Regions from separate parts of the Homo sapiens genome. Here region 1 is linked to region 2. Evidence: fine-mapped QTL for protein levels in blood plasma. A gene starts in region 2. The other region holds a variant in brackets. All regions are shown on one strand. Distances are from middle to middle. Region 1 overlaps PLXNB2 (plexin B2). Region 2 holds the start of PLXNB2 (plexin B2).

Region 1 (13,867 bases), 22 kb after region 2:
AGGGTGTGCCAGCCCCCGGCAGGGACAGGAGAGCCTTCTTCCTGTACCGGGGCCCCTACAGCCCTGGCGGGTGGGTGAGTGTCTTCCCTGGGTGGAAGCTGGGGGACGGCTGAGGGGTGGCTTGTGGGGGCCCAGAGCCATTGCTTTTCCTGGGGCTAGGGGCGCCGCAGGGTTCCCCAGGCTGCCCCACCACGGTCCGGGCCAGATCCGAGGGGACCGTGGGCCCCGCCCCCGCGCTGCCCCCGCATTCCCCTCCCAGCTGCGGGCGCATTCCATTCATTCCCGGGAGCTGCGCCTGGCTGAGGCTGCCTCTGCCACTGCCACCGAGCTGGGCCGGGTGAGCGAGCTGGGCCGGGTGAGCGGGGCTGGGAGGGGAGGGCAGCAGGCCTGGGCGCAGGGCCGAGGGGCCTGGACGTTGCCTGCCCCCGCTGGCGCCACTGGGTGCACTTAGAAGGCGGGGGCCTGCGGGACCTGCCCCCGGGTGGCTGTGGGTAGGGGAGGGGCGCGGCGGGGGTTGGGGAGCCTTCGGGCAGGCGCTGCTCCTCCCTGGTAGGGCCATGGGCTGTGGCTGTAGCCTACGGGCCTCTCCTGGAGGCCTGGGACTCCTGTGCCCTCCTCTCCTCTCCCCTGGACAGGCCACTGAGCCACAGCGGGGGACCCTGGCTGAGCTGGGCATAGAACCCCCTCCACCAGGATCATGCCCAGAGGTTCCCGTGGGCTTGTAGAATCTTCCTGTCTCTCACTAAAGCCAGCATCTTTTCCTGGCTGATCACCCCTATCCTGGTGAAGCCTGGGGTCCCATGGCCCTACCCAGCCTCTCTGCCACCAGTCGGCCAGGAACTCCCTAGCCTGTGGGTGGTCACCTCTCCCAGCGGCTGCTGTGCTCGTGGGCACCTGGGGGGCTCCAGGGGTTGGGCAGCAGCTGAGCACTGAACCCCCAGTGCAGGGAGGGAGTTCTGTGCCGGGCAGGAGCTGCCTGTCTAATGGGTGCACTCCCAGGGAGCAGGAAGGCCAGTGCAGCGCTGTCTCACTCATGCGGGCCCTGGGGTGGCTCAGATGTTGTCGGTCGGTTGCGTCTTGGTTACACCTCAAGAGATTTCAGGAAGCGTGCGGGCAATCAGAACGGGGGGTTGCCACGGGCAGGTGGAGGGCGGCTGTGCCAGTAAATGCAGCTTCACCCAAAGCCGAGGCTCGGGAGAAACACTTCCCCTGGCTACGGAGCAGCAGAGCGGGCTCCCCTGCCCTCCTGGGAGGACAGAGGCCAGGGGGTTTGGGGGGTTGTCAAAAGGGTGGAGAAACACAGTGGTCAGAGGCCAAGCTGCTCCCACTGCATGTCAGAATCCCAGCCCCACCCATGCCCGCGGTGTGGCCTTGGGTAAATTCTGCTCCGTGCCTCAGTTTCTTCACCTGAGAAATGGGTCACAGGCTGTCGTGGTCAGCCTGGCCGTCAGAGACACAGGGATGTGGAAACATTTGCATTTTGTGGCTTGTTCTTTGTACACTTAAAACTTTTTTTTTTTTTTTTTTTTTTTGAGACAGAGTCTCGCTCTGTCACCCAGGCTGGAGTGCAGTGGTGCAATCTTGGCTCGCTGCAACCTCCGCCTCCCAGGTTCACGCGATTCTCCTGCCTCAGCCTCTGGAGTAGCTGAGACTACAGGCGGGTGCCAGCACGCTTGGCTAATTTTTTTGTGTTTTTAGTAGAGACGGGGTTTCACCATGTTGGCCAGGCTGGTCTCAAACTCCTGACCTCGTGATCCGCCCGCCTCGGCCTCCCAAGGTGCTGGGATTACAGGCGTGAGCCACCGGGCCTGGCAAAACTTTCAAATATGTGGTGAGAAAGCGGATTGCGTTTCGAGGGGATGAGACATATGCAGGGAGGTGACACTTGTGGTGGCCTGAGAGGATGTGGCAGTCCCTCTGGAGGCACGGGGTGGGCCTGCACAGGGAGGTGGGGGAGGCCAGGGCCTCCATCCCTCGTAACCCTCTGCCATCGAGTCTGGACCCCCTTGGCACCTGCCATGGCAGGGCTGCCCTGGACACCTGGGAGCCCCCCGTACTGGTGCACTCAGGGAAGATGATGGTGGGCCCAGGAGTGGGGGTGGTTGTGAGCATGAGGAGGGGGCACTGGCAGGGGAGGCTGATGTAGGGATCACTGGCCAGGATGGAGCAGGGTCCCTAGCGTGAGAGGGACGGACCACCCTGAGGAAGAGCTCAGAGGCAGAAGGGCCCTGTCTCTGCCACTTGTGTCTGAGCCCCCAAGATGCAGTTGAGTCTGGTAGGGAGGGAAAGAGAGAGGACCACGCATGTCCTGGGTCCACCTGTGGGGCCTTGGATCTTCCTCCTATTGGGAGACCCTCAGCTCAGCCTGGTCCTCAGCAGCTCACCCATCACACCACACATCCCCCTCATCCACCCGGACCCAGGCACAGACCCCACACCGAGACGTGCTCAGTTACACACACGCATGTGGACACAGCCTGTCCAGGCTGCAGATGTGGGGGCCTCTGCCTCTGAGACCTGGTGGATTTGGAGTTGCTCATGGCTCCCCAGGTCCCCTTGTTGCCTCCGCTGTGCGCACATCAGAGGCTGTGCCCTGGGCGTGACATGGGCCGAGCGAGGAGCTGTGGGTGATTGCTGGCTTCCACTGTTTCACCAGGGCAGGGGGCCTGGAGGTGGTCAGGGAGGCTCAGGCCGCCTGGGGGCTCTGGCGGGCAGTTGTAAACAGCATGTGCACTTGCTGGGCTATGCACAGGGCACCCCTCGCTCTCACCTGAGCCTCTGGTTTCCCGTGTCCTTCACCTCTGCCCCATGGGTGAGCCACCTGTTCCAACGTCCAGGGGTCTGTCTGTCAGCCTGAGCCTGTGCGCTGGGGCCGGTGCGTCCCGACCACCTGGAGCTCCTTGGGGTCACAGGTCAGGGGGCATGAATGTGAGCACTTGAGAGCCTTTCTGGGGGCGTCAACTCCTTGCCTCGGGGATAGGCCTGCCGGTGTTTTCAGCACCTCCGGGAGGGATCCTGTAGCAGGCGATGGCAGTGCCTTGGCCCCAGTGGTCAGTCAGGGTGGACTTGAGGAGGGCTGAGAAGTGGTCTCCGGCGAGACCTCGAGGATGGCGGGGGTGTGAAGCAGGAAGGGGCGGAGCTCCAGGTTCCTCAGTTCGTGGAGTGGCGTGACCCTCTCTCCCATGTTCTGACGTTTGGGGCAGGGACTGGAGAGGGATTTGATCGGGGGTCCTCTGGGTCGGGGCTCCCCTGACCCTTCTCTCTTCCCACAGGGTGCGGGGGGCAATGGCACTGCAGCTCTGGGCCCTGACCCTGCTGGGCCTGCTGGGCGCAGGTGCCAGCCTGAGGCCCCGCAAGCTGGACTTCTTCCGCAGCGAGAAAGAGCTGAACCACCTGGCTGTGGATGAGGCCTCAGGCGTGGTGTACCTGGGGGCGGTGAATGCCCTCTACCAGCTGGATGCGAAGCTGCAGCTGGAGCAGCAGGTGGCCACGGGCCCGGCCCTGGACAACAAGAAGTGCACGCCGCCCATCGAGGCCAGCCAGTGCCATGAGGCTGAGATGACTGACAATGTCAACCAGCTGCTGCTGCTCGACCCTCCCAGGAAGCGCCTGGTGGAGTGCGGCAGCCTCTTCAAGGGCATCTGCGCTCTGCGCGCCCTGAGCAACATCTCCCTCCGCCTGTTCTACGAGGACGGCAGCGGGGAGAAGTCTTTCGTGGCCAGCAATGATGAGGGCGTGGCCACAGTGGGGCTGGTGAGCTCCACGGGTCCTGGTGGTGACCGCGTGCTGTTTGTGGGCAAAGGCAATGGGCCACACGACAACGGCATCATCGTGAGCACTCGGCTGTTGGACCGGACTGACAGCAGGGAGGCCTTTGAAGCCTACACGGACCACGCCACCTACAAGGCCGGCTACCTGTCCACCAACACACAGCAGTTCGTGGCGGCCTTCGAGGACGGCCCCTACGTCTTCTTTGTCTTCAACCAGCAGGACAAGCACCCGGCCCGGAACCGCACGCTGCTGGCACGCATGTGCAGAGAAGACCCCAACTACTACTCCTACCTGGAGATGGACCTGCAGTGCCGGGACCCCGACATCCACGCCGCTGCCTTTGGCACCTGCCTGGCCGCCTCCGTGGCTGCGCCTGGCTCTGGCAGGGTGCTATATGCTGTCTTCAGCAGAGACAGCCGGAGCAGTGGGGGGCCCGGTGCGGGCCTCTGCCTGTTCCCGCTGGACAAGGTGCACGCCAAGATGGAGGCCAACCGCAACGCCTGTTACACAGGCACCCGGGAGGCCCGTGACATCTTCTACAAGCCCTTCCACGGCGATATCCAGTGCGGCGGCCACGCGCCGGTATGGGCCTCAGTGTGTTCTCGCAGGGCCCGGACTGCAGGCGTCCGTTCGTGGGTTTGCGTGTCCCAGCCTGCTGGGGAGGGTGCACGTGAGCAGTGTGGCCGTGGCTCTCGCCAGCCTGGGCGCTTGCGTGGGTGGGTGCCGCATCTCTCAATGCCATTCACGCTGGCGCCAGTCCCAGGCCTGTGTCGGGCACTGGGGAACACAACAGTGAGCACGGTGGGGCTCCCTGCCATGTGGGTTCTGTTCTCGGGGACGTGTGTAGGACGTGTGCCGGAGGGAAGGGAAGGGCCTGTCCCGAGTCTTGGAGCGCGAGTGGAGAGGGCCCTTCAGGACAGGGGGTCTGCCTGCCATTGACACGCTGTGGTCCGCAGGGCTCCAGCAAGAGCTTCCCATGTGGCTCGGAGCACCTGCCCTACCCGCTGGGCAGCCGCGACGGGCTCAGAGGCACAGCCGTGCTGCAGCGTGGAGGCCTGAACCTCACGGCCGTGACGGTCGCCGCCGAGAACAACCACACTGTTGCTTTTCTGGGCACCTCTGATGGCCGGATCCTCAAGGTTTGGCCCAGGCTGGGGCGGGGAGGCTCTGGAGGGCCCGTCTGTGCACAAGGCCCGTACCCTCACCGGCCTGCCCTCGCGCACACAGGTGTACCTCACCCCAGATGGCACCTCCTCAGAGTACGACTCTATCCTTGTGGAGATAAACAAGAGAGTCAAGCGCGACCTGGTACTGTCTGGAGACCTGGGCAGCCTGTACGCCATGACCCAGGACAAGGTGAGCCAGACGCAGCCCCGGAGAGCACTCTAGGCCAAGTGTGCCCGGTCATTGCATCCCAGGCCCTTAGGACAGGCCTGGGGGCCAGAGGAGGATGGGGTGCTGCAGAGCTGGGCCCTTCTCCTTGGTCTGGATGAGGGGTGGCTGGGTGGGTCCCGGGCAGTGCCTCCATCCTGTGTCTCTCTAGCACTGCCCCGTCTCTGCCGCTCCTTCTGTTTGTCCTTTGTGGTCTCAACCATGTCTCTCCCTCTGGCCCCGCCTCTGCCCTGTCCTGATGGAAGGGACCTGGGTTGGTGTCTGAGGCGTGTTGCTGAGGGTGGATGGGAAGACGGGGTCCCTGCACAGCCCATGTGAGCTCAGTCAGTGGAGAACATGGGCCTGGGCCCCAAGCTTGTGGGGGGTTAGTGCCAGAGACCCTCAGGCCAGCCCTAGGAGCACCCCTCGGAGGGAGCCAGTGTAGAGGACAGGAGCTGCCCCGGGAGACACCATAGCCAAGACCTCCAGGCTTCCCTGGGCTCCCATCGGGATCCTGGGCCAGGCATGGCCACCCAGAGCCAGAACTGTTTAATATCAAGCCTGAGGTGTCTGAGGCTCCCGAGGCCCCGGGACAGAGCTGGGTCAAGCTGGCGGTCTGGGGACATCTGGGGTCTGCGGAAGGCCCGTGCGGCCTCTGCTGTGGTCCCACTCACGGCCCCGCTGCCCTAGGTGTTCCGGCTGCCGGTGCAGGAGTGCCTGAGCTACCCGACCTGCACCCAGTGCCGCGACTCCCAGGACCCCTACTGCGGCTGGTGCGTCGTCGAGGGACGGTGAGTGCCTGGGGTGGCTCGGGGACACGGCCTGCCTCTGGGATCCCGGAAGGTCGTGGCCTGGGTCGGGGGGCACATCGCACTGTCCTGTCCCGGGAGAACAAGACTCCACCCTGGGCTGAGGCCGCCCCCTGCGCCTGCAGATGCACCCGGAAGGCCGAGTGTCCGCGGGCCGAGGAGGCCAGCCACTGGCTGTGGAGCCGAAGCAAGTCCTGCGTGGCCGTCACCAGCGCCCAGCCACAGAACATGAGCCGGCGGGCCCAGGGGGAGGTGCGTGGTGGGTCTGGGGTGGGGGTCCTGGGCCCCAGGCCGGGCCAGGTGGGGGCTCCCCCATGCTGGGAGCTGTTGGGACAGGCAGGGGAGGGCTCCACATCTCCCCCGCCTGGGCTCTGGGCACCGAGCCTTAGGGATGGAGCCCGCCCTCCATTGGTCCCCTGGACCCCTATGACCTGGGCGGGCAGGGGTGGGGCTTGTCCATATCCAGGGTGGACTCAGGCCCTGTCCCAGGAGTTGCTGGGGTGACCACAGAGAGGCCTGTATTGGAAGACGTGGAGTCGGGTTCTGGAGGCTCCACTGGGACGTGCGCCCACACACGCAGGGAGGTCGGGTCACCGGCAGGTGGGCTGACAGGACTCGGGGTTCCCAGTGTGAGCGGCACGGCCCCTCCCTCAGGTGCAGCTGACCGTCAGCCCCCTCCCTGCCCTGAGCGAGGAGGACGAGTTGCTGTGCCTTTTTGGGGAGTCGCCGCCACACCCCGCCCGCGTGGAGGGCGAGGCCGTCATCTGCAACTCCCCAAGCAGCATCCCCGTCACACCGCCAGGCCAGGGTGAGGCCCCTTCCCGAGCCCCCGGGTGGCCCTTCTCGGTCGCACGGGGCCCTGTGCACACGGGCTCTCGCCTCTGCTGGCCCCTGGGTGCAGGCTCTGCACAGGCACACTCCGCGGCTGCTCCGGGGGCCCAGCCTGAATGAAGCCTGTGGTGGGGTTGCTGTGCCTGTTGGGGAGGTTCTGGCTTCTTGGGCTGTCCGCAGCCACGCCCCCCAGGCCTGTAGCAAAGGTGACTTGTCTTCAGCCTGCTCCCTCATCACGTCCGGAGCGGCATGTGGGTGCCAGGCGCCAGGCCCCGTCGTCTCGGCAGACGCCCCTCACCCCTTCCTGCCATGTCCAGCTTCAGAGAGCAGGGCCGTTCCCAGAGGCTGCAGGGCCTCGCATGTGGGCCAGGGCAGGCGTCGCGCCCATGTCCCCTGAGTTTTGGGGGCAGTGGGGCCACGCAGTGACGTGGGCAGGGACCTGGCAGGTCCCACTCAGACTCCAAGGAGCCGCTGCCCTCAGTGCCTGCGGGAACAGAGGGTATGAAAGCAACCTGGACCCGGGGGAGAAAGGCAAGCCCGGTGCTGCGCCCGACACCCGAACCAAGATCTGATAGCAGGTGGCAGGTCCAGCCCAGCGTGAACGGGCGTCCTGGCAGCCCCACCCGAGATCTGATAGCAGGTGGCAGGCCCCGCCCAACATGAATGCGGGGCGTCCTGGCAGGGCCCCCTGAAGACCAGGGGTCTCCACCTTGGCCCCAGGAGTCAGCCCCAGGGGAGGCCCAGCCTGGCCCTCGGCCCTGCGGCCGCCACCTTGACACCTCCCCCTCTGCTGTCTGCAGACCACGTGGCCGTGACCATCCAGCTCCTCCTTAGACGAGGCAACATCTTCCTCACGTCCTACCAGTACCCCTTCTACGACTGCCGCCAGGCCATGAGCCTGGAGGAGAACCTGCCGTGAGTGTCTTGTGCCCATCGACCCCACCCTGCCCGTCCACCCCAGCCCTGCTCACGATCCCCTCTGGATGCAGGTGCATCTCCTGCGTGAGCAACCGCTGGACCTGCCAGTGGGACCTGCGCTACCACGAGTGCCGGGAGGCTTCGCCCAACCCTGAGGACGGCATCGTCCGTGCCCACATGGTGAGGGGCCTCGGGGCCTCAGGGGACTGTTCAGGGCATGGCTGCTCCGCTGTGCCCAGGCAGCACCTGACCAGCCTTACTCTCCCAGGAGGACAGCTGTCCCCAGTTCCTGGGACCCAGCCCCCTGGTGATCCCCATGAACCACGAGACAGATGTGAACTTCCAGGGCAAGAACCTGGACACCGTGAAGGTGCGGAGGGAGGGGTGCCGGCTGGTGACAGGCAGGCTCAGGTGCGGAGGGAGGGGTGCCGGCCGGTGACAGGCAGGCTCAGGTACGGAGGGAGGGGTGCCGGCCGGTGACAGGCAGGCTCAGGTGCGGAGGGAGGGGTGCCGGCTGTGACAGGCAGGCTCAGGTGCGGAGGGAGGGGTGCCGGCCGGTGACAGGCAGGCTCAGGTGCGGAGGGAGGGGTGCCGGCTGTGACAGGCAGGCTCAGGTGCGGAGGGAGGGGTGCCGGCCGGTGACAGGCAGGCTCAGGTGCGGAGGGAGGGGTGCCGGCCGGTGACAGGCAGGCTCAGGTACGGAGGGAGGGGGTGCCGGTTGGTGACAGGCAGGCTCAGGTGCGGAGGGAGGGGGTGCCGGCCGGTGACAGGCAGGCTCAGGTGCGGAGGGAGGGGTGCCGGCCGGTGACAGGCAGGCTCAGGTGCGGAGGGAGGGGTGCCGGCCGGTGACAGGCAGGCTCAGGTGCGGAGGGAGGGGGTGCCGGTTGGTGACAGGCAGGCTCAGGTGCGGAGGGAGGGGTGCCGGCCGGTGACAGGCAGGCTCAGGTGCGGAGGGAGGGGGTGCCGGTTGGTGACAGGCAGGCTAAGGTACGGAGGGAGGGGTGCCGGCCAGTGCTGATGGGTGTGTGGGAAGCCTGAGCTCCACCCGTGCCCCCCGACTCGGGGCCCCCACATGAGGTAGAGGGCACAGGATTTATCGGGGACAGAGGCCAGGAGGCAGCACTCGGGGGCCTTTGGATGGGCCTGAAGAGAGGCAGTGGAGGAGGCAGGCGTGTGGAGATTGAGGGGCCAGTGCCACCTCCTGAGGAGGGAGCTGTGGGGGCCACGATGTCAGGTGGGCCGGGCGATGTTCTCAGGTGTGGATGAGTGGTGGAGGTGGCCGTGGGAAACCCACAGAGGACGTTCAGAGGCTTCTGCAGACACAGGTGTTTGGGCTCAGGAGTGGCCGAGGGGTCAGCTGGCATGGTAATCTGAGGGGCGGGCATGTGTGGGGTGAGGAGAGGGCTCCCACACTGTAGGCACAGAGGAGGGGCTGCAGGGGTTCTGGGAGGAGGGCCAGGGTGCCACAGCCGCCTGTCCAGGGTCCTGACGGCATGGTCTGCAGGGTTCCTCCCTGCACGTGGGCAGTGACTTGCTCAAGTTCATGGAGCCGGTGACCATGCAGGAATCTGGGACCTTCGCCTTTCGGACCCCAAAGGTACGGCTCCAGGGCAGGCCGGCTCGGCTGCTGGACCCCAGGGCCCCGGGTGGGGTGGGGGGTCACCTTCAGGACTGTGAGGGGAGGGGCAGCAGGGAGACCCCAGGGACCAGAGCCCAGCCAGGGGCTCGCCATGCCCTGTGCTGCTGGGGAAGCCCCCTCTGCCCTCTGCCTCCCTGGGGACAGAGTGGCACAGAGCAGCGTCCATGGGGTTCCCGAACTTCCGACACCTGAAGGCCTCCCCTGCTGCCCTTGGCTGGGAAGGGACCCGGTGGCCACAGGGAGGCTGCCCTTGTGACCCCCGCCCCACGCCCCTCTGTGGGGGCAGGAAGTGCAGTGTGCCCCTGCGTGTCCCCCAGCTGTCCCACGATGCCAACGAGACGCTGCCCCTGCACCTCTACGTCAAGTCTTACGGCAAGAATATCGACAGCAAGCTCCATGGTGGGGGCCACGGGCGCAGTGGGGGGCGGGCAGGGGACGGGTGGGCACAAGGCGGTGGGTGGGGGGACAGGTGGGCGCAGTGGGGAGCAGGTCGGGGGCGGGCAGGCACGGGGTGACCACTGACGGCAGCTCTCCCCGCAGTGACCCTCTACAACTGCTCCTTTGGCCGCAGCGACTGCAGCCTGTGCCGGGCCGCTAACCCCGACTACAGGTGTGCGTGGTGCGGGGGCCAGAGCAGGTGCGTGTATGAGGCCCTGTGCAACACCACCTCCGAGTGCCCGCCGCCCGTCATCACCAGGGTGAGCCCCTCGAAGCCTGGCCTACACCTTCCCTCGTCCCTGGCATGAGCCCCTCCCTGCTCACCCGGCTCTGTGGTTTCAGATCCAGCCTGAG[A/G]CGGGCCCCCTGGGTGGGGGCATCCGCATCACCATCCTGGGGTCCAATTTGGGCGTCCAAGCAGGGGACATCCAGAGGATCTCTGTGGCCGGCCGGAACTGCTCCTTTCAGCCGGAACGTTACTCCGTGTCCACCCGGTGAGTGGACGGCCCTGGTCTGGGCCCTGTCAGCTGGGTCAGTACCCACGCTGGGGTTCCGGGTGACTGGGTGGGTGGGGAGGCTGAGGGGGTGAGGGTGTCAGGGTGTGGGGTGGGTCGGGGAGTGCCTGGGCCACACTGCCTGTCGCCCGCCAGGATCGTGTGTGTGATCGAGGCTGCGGAGACGCCTTTCACGGGGGGTGTCGAGGTGGACGTCTTCGGGAAACTGGGCCGTTCGCCTCCCAATGTCCAGTTCACCTTCCAAGTAAGCACCCGGCCTCGGGGACCTGCCGAACCCGGGAGGACCGGGAGGAGGGGCTCTGCCCGCCGCCTCCCCACGACAGTTACCATCCAGCCCAGGACCGAGGGCGTCCTGTGCCCCGTCCTCACCCGAGTGCCCCTGCGGCTCTTTCAGCAGCCCAAGCCTCTCAGTGTGGAGCCGCAGCAGGGACCGCAGGCGGGCGGCACCACACTGACCATCCACGGCACCCACCTGGACACGGGCTCCCAGGAGGACGTGCGGGTGACCCTCAACGGCGTCCCGTGTAAAGTGTGGGTGTCACCGCCAGCTGCTGAGTCTGGTTGGCCCTGGCCCTGGGTATGGAGGGGGGCACTTACTGAGACCTGAGTGGCCCTGAGGGGATGGCGGGGCCAGCCTGGTCGGGCTGGGGCTGGTCCCGGGGGAGGGGTTGATGCAGACCAGCACCCTCCCTCCCCCAGGACGAAGTTTGGGGCGCAGCTCCAGTGTGTCACTGGCCCCCAGGCGACACGGGGCCAGATGCTTCTGGAGGTCTCCTACGGGGGGTCCCCCGTGCCCAACCCCGGCATCTTCTTCACCTACCGCGAAAACCCCGTACTGCGAGCCTTCGAGCCGCTACGAAGCTTTGCCAGGTGAGGCTGGTGTCCCCCCGCCCCCCTCTGCTCCCCACACCCAGCTGCCTCCTCAGTGCCCTTGGCTGACTGTGCTGAAAGGAATGTGGTGGGGCTGGTCTGTGCAGCGGGAGGCGGCCTCCGGAAAACCCCACTGCACTCCAGATCCACTTCCTCCTAGAAACCCAGATGGGCACACCAGAGGCTCCACGCTCACCAGGCCCCGTGTGCCCCCCGCCCACTTGCGGCACAGTCTCGTGCTCAGCACGTCCCACCGCGTTGCCCCTTTGCCCACCGAGACCCACACATGCACCTGGAAGCCCCGTGTGGTCAGGGCCAGGGTGGGCGGGGACGGGAGGGCGGAGGCTGCAGGGACCACCCCTGCCAGCCGAGCCCACGAAGGCACTGCCCTCCGCAGTGGTGGCCGCAGCATCAACGTCACGGGTCAGGGCTTCAGCCTGATCCAGAGGTTTGCCATGGTGGTCATCGCGGAGCCCCTGCAGTCCTGGCAGCCGCCGCGGGAGGCTGAATCCCTGCAGCCCATGACGGTCAGTCCTGGCGTGGGCTCAGCTCTGGCACCGGCCCATGGGATCGTGCCCAGGAAGGGCGGGGTCTGCGCCCGGGGGCTGACAGCTGGGACTTGCCTGCAGGTGGTGGGTACAGACTACGTGTTCCACAATGACACCAAGGTCGTCTTCCTGTCCCCGGCTGTGCCTGAGGAGCCAGAGGCCTACAACCTCACGGTGCTGATCGAGATGGACGGGCACCGTGCCCTGCTCAGAACAGAGGCCGGGGCCTTCGAGTACGTGCCTGACCCCACCTTTGAGAACTTCACAGGTGGCGTCAAGAAGCAGGTCAACAAGCTCATCCACGCCCGGGTGAGGACGGTGCAGCCCCGGGTGTCTGGGTCCTGCTCGGGTCTGGGCTGAGAGCTGGTCCACCTGTCCCTGGTTCCCTCCTCCTCACCCCGACCACTGCCGCCTCCCCAGGGCACCAATCTGAACAAGGCGATGACGCTGCAGGAGGCCGAGGCCTTCGTGGGTGCCGAGCGCTGCACCATGAAGACGCTGACGGAGACCGACCTGTACTGTGAGCCCCCGGAGGTGCAGCCCCCGCCCAAGCGGCGGCAGAAACGAGACACCACACACAACCTGCCCGAGTTCATTGTGCGTGAGCGGGGACTGGCGGGGGGTGCCCCCACGGGACCGCGCTGAACCCGGCCCCCCACACAGGTGAAGTTCGGCTCTCGCGAGTGGGTGCTGGGCCGCGTGGAGTACGACACACGGGTGAGCGACGTGCCGCTCAGCCTCATCTTGCCGCTGGTCATCGTGCCCATGGTGGTCGTCATCGCGGTGTCTGTCTACTGCTACTGGTGAGCCCGCCCCCCGGCTGTGCCAACACCCTGAGCCCTCGGCCCTCCCGCCTCGGCCCCTCTGGCCTCATCCGCCGCCCTGCACAGGCAGGCGTGTAGATCCACCTCCTCATCCGGGCAGCTGAGCGGCCAGCCCCGGCAGAACCTAGGAGGCCCGCTGTGCCTTGCAGGAGGAAGAGCCAGCAGGCCGAACGAGAGTATGAGAAGATCAAGTCCCAGCTGGAGGGCCTGGAGGAGAGCGTGCGGGACCGCTGCAAGAAGGAATTCACAGGTAGGGACCGCTTGGGGGCTGGTGCTGGGGCGCCTCCTGGGGCGGGGATGCTGTGTGTAGCGTGGGGGTCAGGGCCCCACGTGGCCAGGGACGTCTCACGCCAGCCTCCCCCCAGACCTGATGATCGAGATGGAGGACCAGACCAACGACGTGCACGAGGCCGGCATCCCCGTGCTGGACTACAAGACCTACACCGACCGCGTCTTCTTCCTGCCCTCCAAGGACGGCGACAAGGACGTGATGATCACCGGCAAGCTGGACATCCCTGAGCCGCGGCGGCCGGTGGTGGAGCAGGCCCTCTACCAGTTCTCCAACCTGCTGAACAGCAAGTCTTTCCTCATCAATGTGAGCCAGGCGTCGGGCGGGCGGGAGGGCACACAGGTGGCGCCGGGCAGGCTTTGACCGCCGGCCCCTACAGTTCATCCACACCCTGGAGAACCAGCGGGAGTTCTCGGCCCGCGCCAAGGTCTACTTCGCGTCCCTGCTGACGGTGGCGCTGCACGGGAAACTGGAGTACTACACGGACATCATGCACACGCTCTTCCTGGAGCTCCTGGAGCAGTACGTGGTGGCCAAGAACCCCAAGCTGATGCTGCGCAGGTGCACATGGGCGGGGCCACGAGCGGGGCCACGGGCGGGGCGGCCGCAGGGGCTCTGGGGCTGGTGGCGGGTGGCACAGCGGCCTGTTGGGCCCCCAGGAGCCGGCAGGTGCCAGCCAGCGCTGGTGGTGGGGGGCGGTCTAGGGGTGGTGTCCCCGGCCACAAACTCAAAGCCGGACTCTAGCCCTTCCTGTCCAGCGGTTTCAGCTGGTCACAGTGTCAGCCCTCTGCAGAACAGAAGGAAGGTGGCACACTTCCCACAAGGGCTGGAGCTGCCACCAGGTAGTCCTCGCTGCAGGCCACACCCAGGCTGGACAGGGGCGAGGCTGGCGCAAGGGTGGCCGGGTGCTTGGAGGAGTCAGTTGGGCCTCAGGAATACTACGGGGTCACTCGGTACAAGGCCTCCCTGCACCCCCAGGTCTGAGACTGTGGTGGAGAGGATGCTGTCCAACTGGATGTCCATCTGCCTGTACCAGTACCTCAAGGT
Region 2 (8,571 bases):
TTCCTGCGTAGCCTGGAGCATGCTGGGCCCCAGCTCACCTGCATCCTCAAGGGCGACTGGCTGGGTCTCTACAGGTGCGTGGACTGCAGGTGCAGGCAGCTTGAGCCCTCCTTGGTCCACAGGGTCAGCCCCATGGCCCCCCGCCTGTCAATCCCCAGGGTCATCCCCATGGCCCCCCGCCTGTCAATCCCCAGGGTCAGCCCCATGGCCCCCCGCCTGTCAATCCCCAGGGTCAGCCCCATGGCCCCCCGCCTGTCAATCCCCAGGGTCAGCCCCATGGCCCCCCGCCTGTCAATCCCCAGGGTCAGCCCCATGGCCCCCCGCCTGTCAATCCCCAGGGTCAGCCCCATGGCCCCCCGCCTGTCAATCCCCAGGGTCAGCCCCATGGCCCCCGCCTGTCAATCCCCAGGGTCAGCCCCATGGCCCCCCGCCTGTTAATCCCCACAGGCGGTTTTTCAAGTCCCCCCATTTTGATGGCTGGTACCGGCAGCGGCACAAGGAGATGGCCCTGAAGCTGGAGGCCCTGCACCTGGAGGCTATCTGTGAGGCGGTGAGAGAGGCTGGGGGTTGGGGAGGGCCAGAACATGGTGGGGGTGGGCACAGGCCCAGGGCAGTGAGGGGCCTTGCTGACAGTAGACCCCGTCTTGCCCTGCAGAACATCGAGACCTGGATGAAAGACAAGTCCGAGGTGGAGGTCGTGGACCTGGTCCTGAAACTTCGTGAGAAGCTGGTAAGATGCCTCCCAGCCTTGTCCCAGCGCCACCAGCCTGGCACGGAGCTGCGCCTGCCCTGACCATGGCTGCCCCTCCAGGTGCGGGCTCAGGGCCACCAGCTCCCTGTGAAGGAGGCTACGCTGCAGCGGGCACAGCTGTACATCGAGACGGTCATCGGCTCCCTGCCCAAAGACCTGCAGGCTGTCTTGTGCCCTCCCTAGAACAAAGCCAAGGGCCACGGTCCCAGGGCCCTAGGTCTGCCTGAGCCTCCCACTCCCCAGTGGTGGCGGCACTGGGCCAAGCACACGCTCCCCTTCCTTGGCCCCCCGCCCAGACTGCAGGCTCCCCTTCCTGCACCACCATTGTCTCAGCAGTAAAGGCGACATTTGGAACCACAGCATGGCCTTGACCATAGGGGTTCCTCGCAGGCAGAGCCTTGCCTCCTCCTGGGTCCCACCTGGCCTCTGCAGACCTTAGGCTGGGACGGGGGCGGGGACAGGCTGGGAGCCCTTGCTGATGTGGGTGCGTCTACCGTCTGCCCCTCCCGGTGCCCATCTGTTGGCCCCCGACCCCCCTGCGCTGTGTGTGATGCTTCCCTCAGCCCAACAGGCTGCCCAGGACAGGAGGGACCCTCTCCTGACACAGCCCCCGTCTTGTCTGGGGATGGGAGGCTATTTTGCATATAGTCATCAACTTGAGAAAGGGAGAGACCACTTTGCAGTGTGAAGAGCTCTGCTCACCACCCCTGGTGCTCCTCTGGACACCCACCTGCTTGGGGCTGTGGTTTGTTGGGAGGTAGGGGTTGGGCAGGGGGCTGTGTGCAGCCCAGCACCTCTGCTAGGAGAGCTGGCTCAGCCTGGCTCTCGGAGAGCCACAGCACCTTCCTGGCTCCCAGTCCTGGAGCCCCCACCAGGCACCAGCTCCGTGCGTCCCTTCTGGGAGGTGGACAGGGCTCCTGTTGTCCAAGTGTGTCCGTCCATCCCCCACATGCAGCCCAAGGGGCTCTGGACTTCGGCCTGACCCTGCCTCTGGCTGGAGCCTGCATGTCTCCCTTTCCTTGGTAAGGGGTGAACGTCCCTAAGAGCCACCTCTGGGTTGTATGCTCCCCCCGTGACACCTGCAGGCACTGAGGCCGGTGAGGTACGGTGTTGACCCTGCACAGCACACAGTGACGGTACTGTCAGGGCTCCGGACAGCCAAGCCCTGCTCAGCATCACGCACTGTGTGCCCGGGAGCAGGTCCCCTGACCACTCAGACCCTCAGACTCCTCATCTGAGCGAGCCAGCCATGCAGATGCCCGACAGGGTGCTGGGAGGGCCACTCATGGAGACTGGGCTTTGTACCCTGTGAGGCCGGGCGGGTGCTGGCCAGGGGACACAGGGCTGGGGGAGGGACTTTTTCTTTTTTTTTCTTTTTGAAATGGAGTCTCGCTCTGTTGCCCAGGCTGGAGTGCAGTGGCATGATCTCGGCTCACTGCAAGCTCTGCCTCCCGGGTTCACGCCATTCTCCTGCCTCAGCCTCCCGAGTAGCTGGGACTACAGGCACCCACCACTGCGCTTGGTTAATTTTTTGTATTTGTAGTAGAGACAGGGTTTCACCATGTTAGCCAGGATGGTCTCGATCTCCTGACCTCGTAATCCGCCCGCCTCGGCCTCCCAACGTGCTAGGATTACAGGCATGAGCCACCGCGCCCGGCCGGGACTTTTCTTTTTCTTCTGAGGCCCCCATTCAGTCCGAGGAATGTAGCCTTCATTCAGCGCAACGTACTGTTTGTGTTCTCATTGGTGCTCTCAGACCTCCAGCCAGGTGGTGGAGAGCGAGCACTGCCAGCCACTTCAGTGCAGGATGTGACTGAGCCACAAGGACAGCGGGGTCAGGTGTCCGGGCGCCAGGTAGTTCTCAGAACTTGGTACATGTCAACTTGTCCAGCCCAACTGCAGCCCAGGACAGCCTGTCCCTGTTCCCATTCTACAGACAAGACGCGGAGGCAGCCGGGAGGGTGACCAAGGGGAGCTGTTAAGCCCCAGATGTCTGGTGCAGGGTCCAAGGATGTGACCACATGAAACAGAACACATAGAGGCCGAGGTGGCAAACCTGTTCTGTGGCAGGGACAAGCCGGGGACCCGAGGGTGAGAAAGGTCCTGGCCCCAAATGCAGCTTGGGCCTCCTGACTGTAGCACAGGGGGACCAGCCTCCCCACTGAGGGCTTGGTCTCTAGAGGGTCTGCAGAGATGCTGGCACCTCTTGTGTGGGCAGCTTGAATGCTGACCTCCATAAGATGGGGCCTGGGGGGCCAGTACAGGCCCTGCCATCAGCTGCCCTCCACCAGGGCCCTCTGCAAAAGCCTTATGCTGGTGACCAGCCCCCTGAGGACCACCACTTCAAGGTGTCGGGGCAGCTTGGGAAGACAACCCACCTCTCTCACAACTGTGACCCCACTTTGGGGAGCGCACCCCAAGGACCGTGGCAGCATGTGCTTCCCCACAGCACAGTCTCGCCTCACTTGGCTTTCTGAGGGCTGCCGCACAGCACAGAGGGCTGCAGACCCACATGGCTGCAGGGGAGGGGCTTCAGGCTGGTCTCTGAGGAGCCCCCAGGGACCCTGGCCACTGTGTATCCAGAAATGCACAAGCAGATTTCCCTGGAGGGCTCTGGTGAGGCCACATAGTGGCGTGTGAAGGGGGAACTTGAGGGGGGAACCGGGCTGGGTGGCCAGCATTGCCCTGGGCAGAAGCTAAGGCTAAGGTGGGGGGTAGTGTCCCAGCCCCTCTTCCTCAGGGCCTGTCCCCACCTGTGCAGAAGAGGCCTGGGGTGGAATGTGGCCTGGGGTGGATGGGTGGGGGCTGGGCGTGGAGACCTGCCAGCTCCATCTGTCCGGATGCCTCTTGTGGCCCCCCCAGTGTCAGGGCCGCTCTGAGTTGGCTGAGCCTCTGTCCAGGGCTAGGCCATGGCCCTCCCCGCCCCACGCACTCCAGGCCAGGGGCAGTCAGTGAAGAGGCAGGAAGGTCCAGACAGCTCTACCCCTGGCCAGAGTGCCAGCCCCCGCAGGCAAGAGGGCTTGCTGGGCAGAACTTAGTTGGCGAGGGTGAGGACTGCTGTGGTCACAGGCCTCCCGAAGGACAGGGACCACAGAACCTAGAGGGTGGGAAGGGCTGGGAGCAGGTCTGGAGTGGGGCTCGGGGCTGAGGGTGCACACAGGGGGCCTGCTCAGGGACAGGAAGGACAGCTGCTCACCCTCAAGCTTCCTGCTGGCTATTTAAAGACTCCCTTTTAGTCTAGAACAGTGGCCTTCCCACAGTTTTGGTATTAAAATGTCCTTTTGTGACTGGACCTTGTCTTTTCCTTTTTTGATAAAAAGTTGGCAACCTTGTCAGAACCTGGTAATTTTGGGGTCCTCTGCAGTGAAGGGTAGGGTTGCCGTGATGTGGATTGTGGTTCAAGGCCCAAGGGAAGATTTTGGACAGGAACAAGGCCTGGCTGCTTGAGGGTGGGAGAAGGCAGAGACTGAAAGAACTAAGTCAGGCTGGGGGAGTTTGTCAGGATGTGGCGGGGCGGATCCCGGGTGGGGGAAGCAGAGGAGGAGGGGATGCCTGGCTGGGGACAGGAGGAAGCTGACCAGCTGCAAGGACGGGGCAGGTCTGGGTGGAAGGCGGGCCCCAGGGAGGGGTGACCCAGGGTGGGGGCAAGAGCTTGGGGAATGCTTCTGTCTCCTGCTCAGCACATCCAGTTCCGGGAGGGCAGTGGAGGCGTGCTCCAAGGTCTGGCCCTGCAGACGGTTCACCACCTCTTCTCAAGCCCAGGGGACACTAGGAGCACTGAGGCCAGGACTTGGGACCTGGGATGCCAGAAGTGGGGCCAGCTCTGTCCCAGAAACCAGAACCCCCAGAAAGAGGTCTCGGCCCGCCCACCTCCTGGCCCTGAAGGACCAGGTGGGGTCCCGGGTGCAGCATCCCAAGGTGCTGCTGGAGGCCAGGGATGTGCTGGGAGGCCATCTCCAGGTCCCAGTTTACCCTGGGAGGTTGAGGGCCTGAGACCCCTGGGAAAGGGCCAAAGCCCAGCAGCCCCCACCCCTGAAGGCCGCAGGGGAGCGACTGGTATGCTTCCAGTCTGGGAGTGAGAGTCTGGTGCCCACACATCTCAAGACTGGCAGGGACCCTCACGTTCCTCTGGCCAGGCGAGAGTGCACTCATAATGCCCTCCCCTGGTACCAAGCCATGGCCTCCCCTCAGACCTGCGGGGTTCCTGTGGGGGTGCTCAGGCCATGGGGCCTCTGTGGGCGCTCGTGCTTCCTGGACGGCGGCATGGTGGGCAGGGTGCTGCCCTGGCTGAACCTGGGTCTGAACTGGGGTGCCTGAACCTACCAGACAATGCTGTGGCCGCTGGGCAGGGGAGAAGTGGGGGGCGCGGGGAGCGCAGGCCCAGCCCCTCCCCTCCCGTCCCCTCCCCTCCTCTCCGGTTCTCTTCTGCCCTCTCCTCCCCGCTCCTGCTCCCCCTCCCCTCCCCCTCCCCCTCTTCCCCCTCCCCCTCTCCCCCTCCCCCTCTTCCCCCTCCCCCTCTCCCCCCTCCCCCTCTCCCCCCTCCCCCTCCCCCTCCTTCTCCCCCTCCGCTTTCCCTCTCCCTCTCCCCCCTTCTCCTGTTCTCCCCGCCCTCCCCTCCTCTCCCTCGTCGGGGGCGGGGCCGGCAGCTCCCGCGCGCTCCGGCCCCTCCTCGGCCACACAAAGGCCCCGTCTCCATGGCAGCAGCGCGGGCCAGAGCGCAGCGCCGAGCGCGGCCCGGGCGCCATCGAGCCTTGGCGGCGGACGTGCAGGTACCGAGCTCGGGGGACTGGGCTGCGGGGGACGTCTCGCTGGGCGTGGGGGGGGCTTCGCCGTCAGCGCCGCTCCGCCCGGGCCTGCCGCGCTGGGGCCCGGGGACCTGCGGCGGCTGCGGCTCCGCGGAGGGCTCCCGGGGCCTGGGCCCCGTCCGTCGGTCCATCCGGCGAGGCCCGGGCCGCTGCCGCCCCACTCCCTTCCCGGTGTTGACTCGGGGGACGGGCCCGGCGGCGGGGGCTGCGCGTCCCTCCGGAGCCGCGTCGGATCCCTCCTCCGCGCCTGCCTCTCACTCTTCAGCCGCCGAGCTCCGTGCGCCGAGCGGAGATGGTCTCGCGGTGCGGGCGCTCCGGGCCGGCCCCAGGCTCAGCGGCACAGGAGCCTGGATTTGCCCGAGCTCCCGGGGGCCGTCCCCGCACCCCCTGGGGCCTGCTTGGCGCGGGGGGACCAGGGCGGAGAGCACCCGCACCTGGCGAGACCCCACTGCCTGGGCCTCCTCGCGGTTCCCAGAGTGGCGTCTGGGTGGACACCCCGAGACACAGAAAGTCTCAGAAGCGGGGGCGCGAGCCCTGCCTGTCCCCTGCTGACCCTGCCCCTCCGCACCCTGCTCCTGCAGGAAGCCCCTGCCCTGCCAGCGCCCCTGGTCGGGCTATTCGGCAGATCTGGGGAGCCCGCCTCCCCCTGTCATCTGGGGGTCTCAGAGCCCGGACGCCCTGGGGCTTCCTGCCAGGCCCTTGATTTCTCTTCCCGAAGCTCCCTGGGAAAGGAAGAAAGGGGTCCGTCTGCCCACTGTGGGCTGTGGCAGAGTCAGGACAGGGGGTGAGGGTGAGGGTGAGGGTGAGGGTGAGGGTGAGGGTGAGGGTGAGGGTGGGCCCCAAACCCGGCAGATCCCGGCGGCCTGGAGGGCTCCCTGTGCCCCACCTTCCCTGGACCCCCCCGCCCTCCCCACTTAATGTCTGACTTCGGCCCTTGCTTGGAGGTTCGGCGCAGCCTGTGAGGCTTTAAAGTTGAGCTTCCTCAGGAGCCCTTTGCGGGTGGGAGAGCGAGGCTGCCGGGAAGTGGGGGCTCTCAGCCTGCCCCATGCCCAGATGACCCTGGCACGGAACAGCTGAACAGCTGGTGGGAGGAGCCCTCCCTTTCCTGTCCAGAGGTGAGGGTCTCCCGGAGGGCAGGGCCAGCAGGCATAGGTTTGTGGCGAGTCAGCTTTTTGCATGTTGCATAGAAATCCCCAGAGCCGACTGAGAAGCAAGCAGGTGGGCCTGGCACATCTGAGTCCTCCCACGGTACCTATGGGGGGCCCACCTCTGTCCCGGGGGGTCTGGGAGGCCTGAGGTCTGGCCAGGGGTTCCTTGCCCCAGTAGAGGAGGGAAGTTACTGAGAAAAACAAGGGTTTGGAATGTGAGTCCCCCTCCCCCACCGGCTGCCTGCCAAGAAAGAATTATTTTGGATCATCCAGCCGTGTCCAGTCACCCGAAGCGGGAGGCTGCAGCGTGGGAGAAGGATCCACTTCCGGGACGTGGGTTGAGGGCCCCAGGAGGAGGACGGGCAAGTCCGGGCAGCTCTGCCACTTTCTACTGCAGCTGCCCAGACTGGGCGGGGAGAAGATGCGTCACCTTTGGGTTGGAGAAAGCCCCAAGGTTGGCCCCAGCAGGCCCTGCTGAGCCTGCAGTGGGCCCAAGCCCCTCTGGGGGAGACCATGGAACAGGAGGAGCTCTGGGCCCACCCAGGGACCCCCTCGCCCCACCCAGGGACCCCCTCGCCCCGAGAAGTCTCAATGGTGGTCTGAAGAGCCTCTGAGGTACCCTCCAGGCCCAAGTTCAGGGACACACCCTGTGCCAGTGACCTGTGCGTGCCAGGGAGGAGCAGGCAGGAGCGAGGCTAGGCTGCTAGGGAGGGCACTGGGGTTTCCCTCAGGGGGCCCTCCTGCCCCAACGGACTCCCTATTCAGCTCCTGACTAACGGACCAGCCTCCCTCCAAGCCCCTCCGACAGCCAGTCCTTGCCTACGACCCCCTCTGGATATGGCGCCTGTGAGCCCATCCTGCAGGTGGGGAGACTGAGGCCAGAGATAGGTCTATGTGAGGAGTCATCTGCGATGCTGTGTGGCCAGGGCTGTGGCTACCTGGCGCTCTGGGTCCATGCTGTGTGTGCGCCCGGGGTGTGTGCCCGGCGGCCTGCATGGGGACCACATCGGGGAGGAGGAGCCGGCAGCTGGCCCCAAGTGCAGAAAGCCCAGAGCCTTGGACCCGGCCCAGGGAAGTGGAGCAGAAGAGATTGGATTGGAAGGTGGTGGGGAGGGCCCATATGGCACAGTCCTCCTCCCATCCCAGGACGTCGTCCGTGCTCACCGTGTCCTGCCCCCTGCCTCACCCTGTGCCAGCCACAGCTGATGGTCCCCCTGGGACGCGGGCGTGGGCAGGGGTGCACTGGCTGGGAGAGGCTGTGTCTTCCGGCCCCTCATATTGTGCCTTCTCTGAGCTAGGCAGGCACTTGGATGCCAGGCCTCTGCCACGAGGGCTGCCTTCCCCTGAGCTGGGAGTTCTCACTCAGCTCATGCCTCCGTCCCTCTGGCTGCAGCCTGGCCGCCCTCCTTGGAAGTTGGCGGGGAACCTCTTGTGCCCAGAGCCTGCCTTGGACACGGTTTGGGGATGAGGTGGTGAGCTGCTCAGAATTCACCCAGTGGCCAGCAAGTGGCCCCCCAGCCTTGACCTCCCTTCTCTGAGGCAGATCCAGGTTCTCTGGGGGTGGGAGATTCAGTAGGGCTGGGACTGGCCACAGCCCCTCCCTCCCTCAGGGGTAGTGGCTGTTTGTGTTTGGGGTGGGGCTGTGGGTGGGGTGGGGCTGGGTCTCTGACTAATTACACGATGGGGAGGGTGGGTCAGAGCCTTGGCTGGTGGGGGGTGCTCAGGCTCTGGGGCCCCGGGGAGGCAGCTGCCCTAGCTTCCCTCTTTCTGGTCGAGGTTCCTCCACCTTCTTCCTTTCCGTGGTTTCACATCCCTTGACACAGGGCCTGCTTCTTCCCATACCCCTGGATTGTAAGGACCCCTGCCT

The links. PIP is the chance, under the fine-mapping model, that this variant and not a neighbour inherited with it causes the effect. Protein levels are from the aptamer-based SomaScan assay of Sun 2018.
Region 1: its variant is fine-mapped to the plasma level of the PLXNB2 protein (Sun 2018, PIP 0.95). The variant lies in the coding sequence of PLXNB2. If it changes the protein, the assay may bind it differently, which can mimic a change of level.

The regions. Positions count from the first base shown.
Region 1 is chr22:50,280,003-50,293,869 of GRCh38, reverse strand. It overlaps PLXNB2 (plexin B2), which reads left to right. Exons shown (of 37, transcript NM_012401.4): 3 at 3,273-4,353; 4 at 4,728-4,910; 5 at 4,999-5,127; 6 at 5,833-5,933; 7 at 6,077-6,203; 8 at 6,606-6,759; 9 at 7,583-7,697; 10 at 7,772-7,880; 11 at 7,969-8,070; 12 at 9,205-9,297; 13 at 9,657-9,738; 14 at 9,880-10,037; 15 at 10,120-10,268; 16 at 10,425-10,533; 10 more. The coding sequence starts at 3,286. Among named protein-coding and RNA genes, the nearest start is that of MAPK11, 17 kb to the right of the region's middle. RefSeq lists enhancers at 1,148-1,197, 10,554-11,753 and a silencer at 1,318-1,377. The variant A/G (reference allele first, on the strand shown) is at 10,132.
Region 2 is chr22:50,304,502-50,313,072 of GRCh38, reverse strand. PLXNB2 (plexin B2) reads left to right here and starts at 5,427. Exons shown (of 37, transcript NM_012401.4): 1 at 5,427-5,520. DENND6B (DENN domain containing 6B) reads left to right here. Exons shown (of 20, transcript NM_001001794.4): 17 at 1-74; 18 at 448-550; 19 at 656-730; 20 at 812-4,043. The coding sequence ends at 934. RefSeq lists silencers at 4,356-4,405, 5,106-5,155, 5,316-5,515, 5,526-5,595, 6,116-6,266 and enhancers at 6,815-7,184, 6,574-7,773.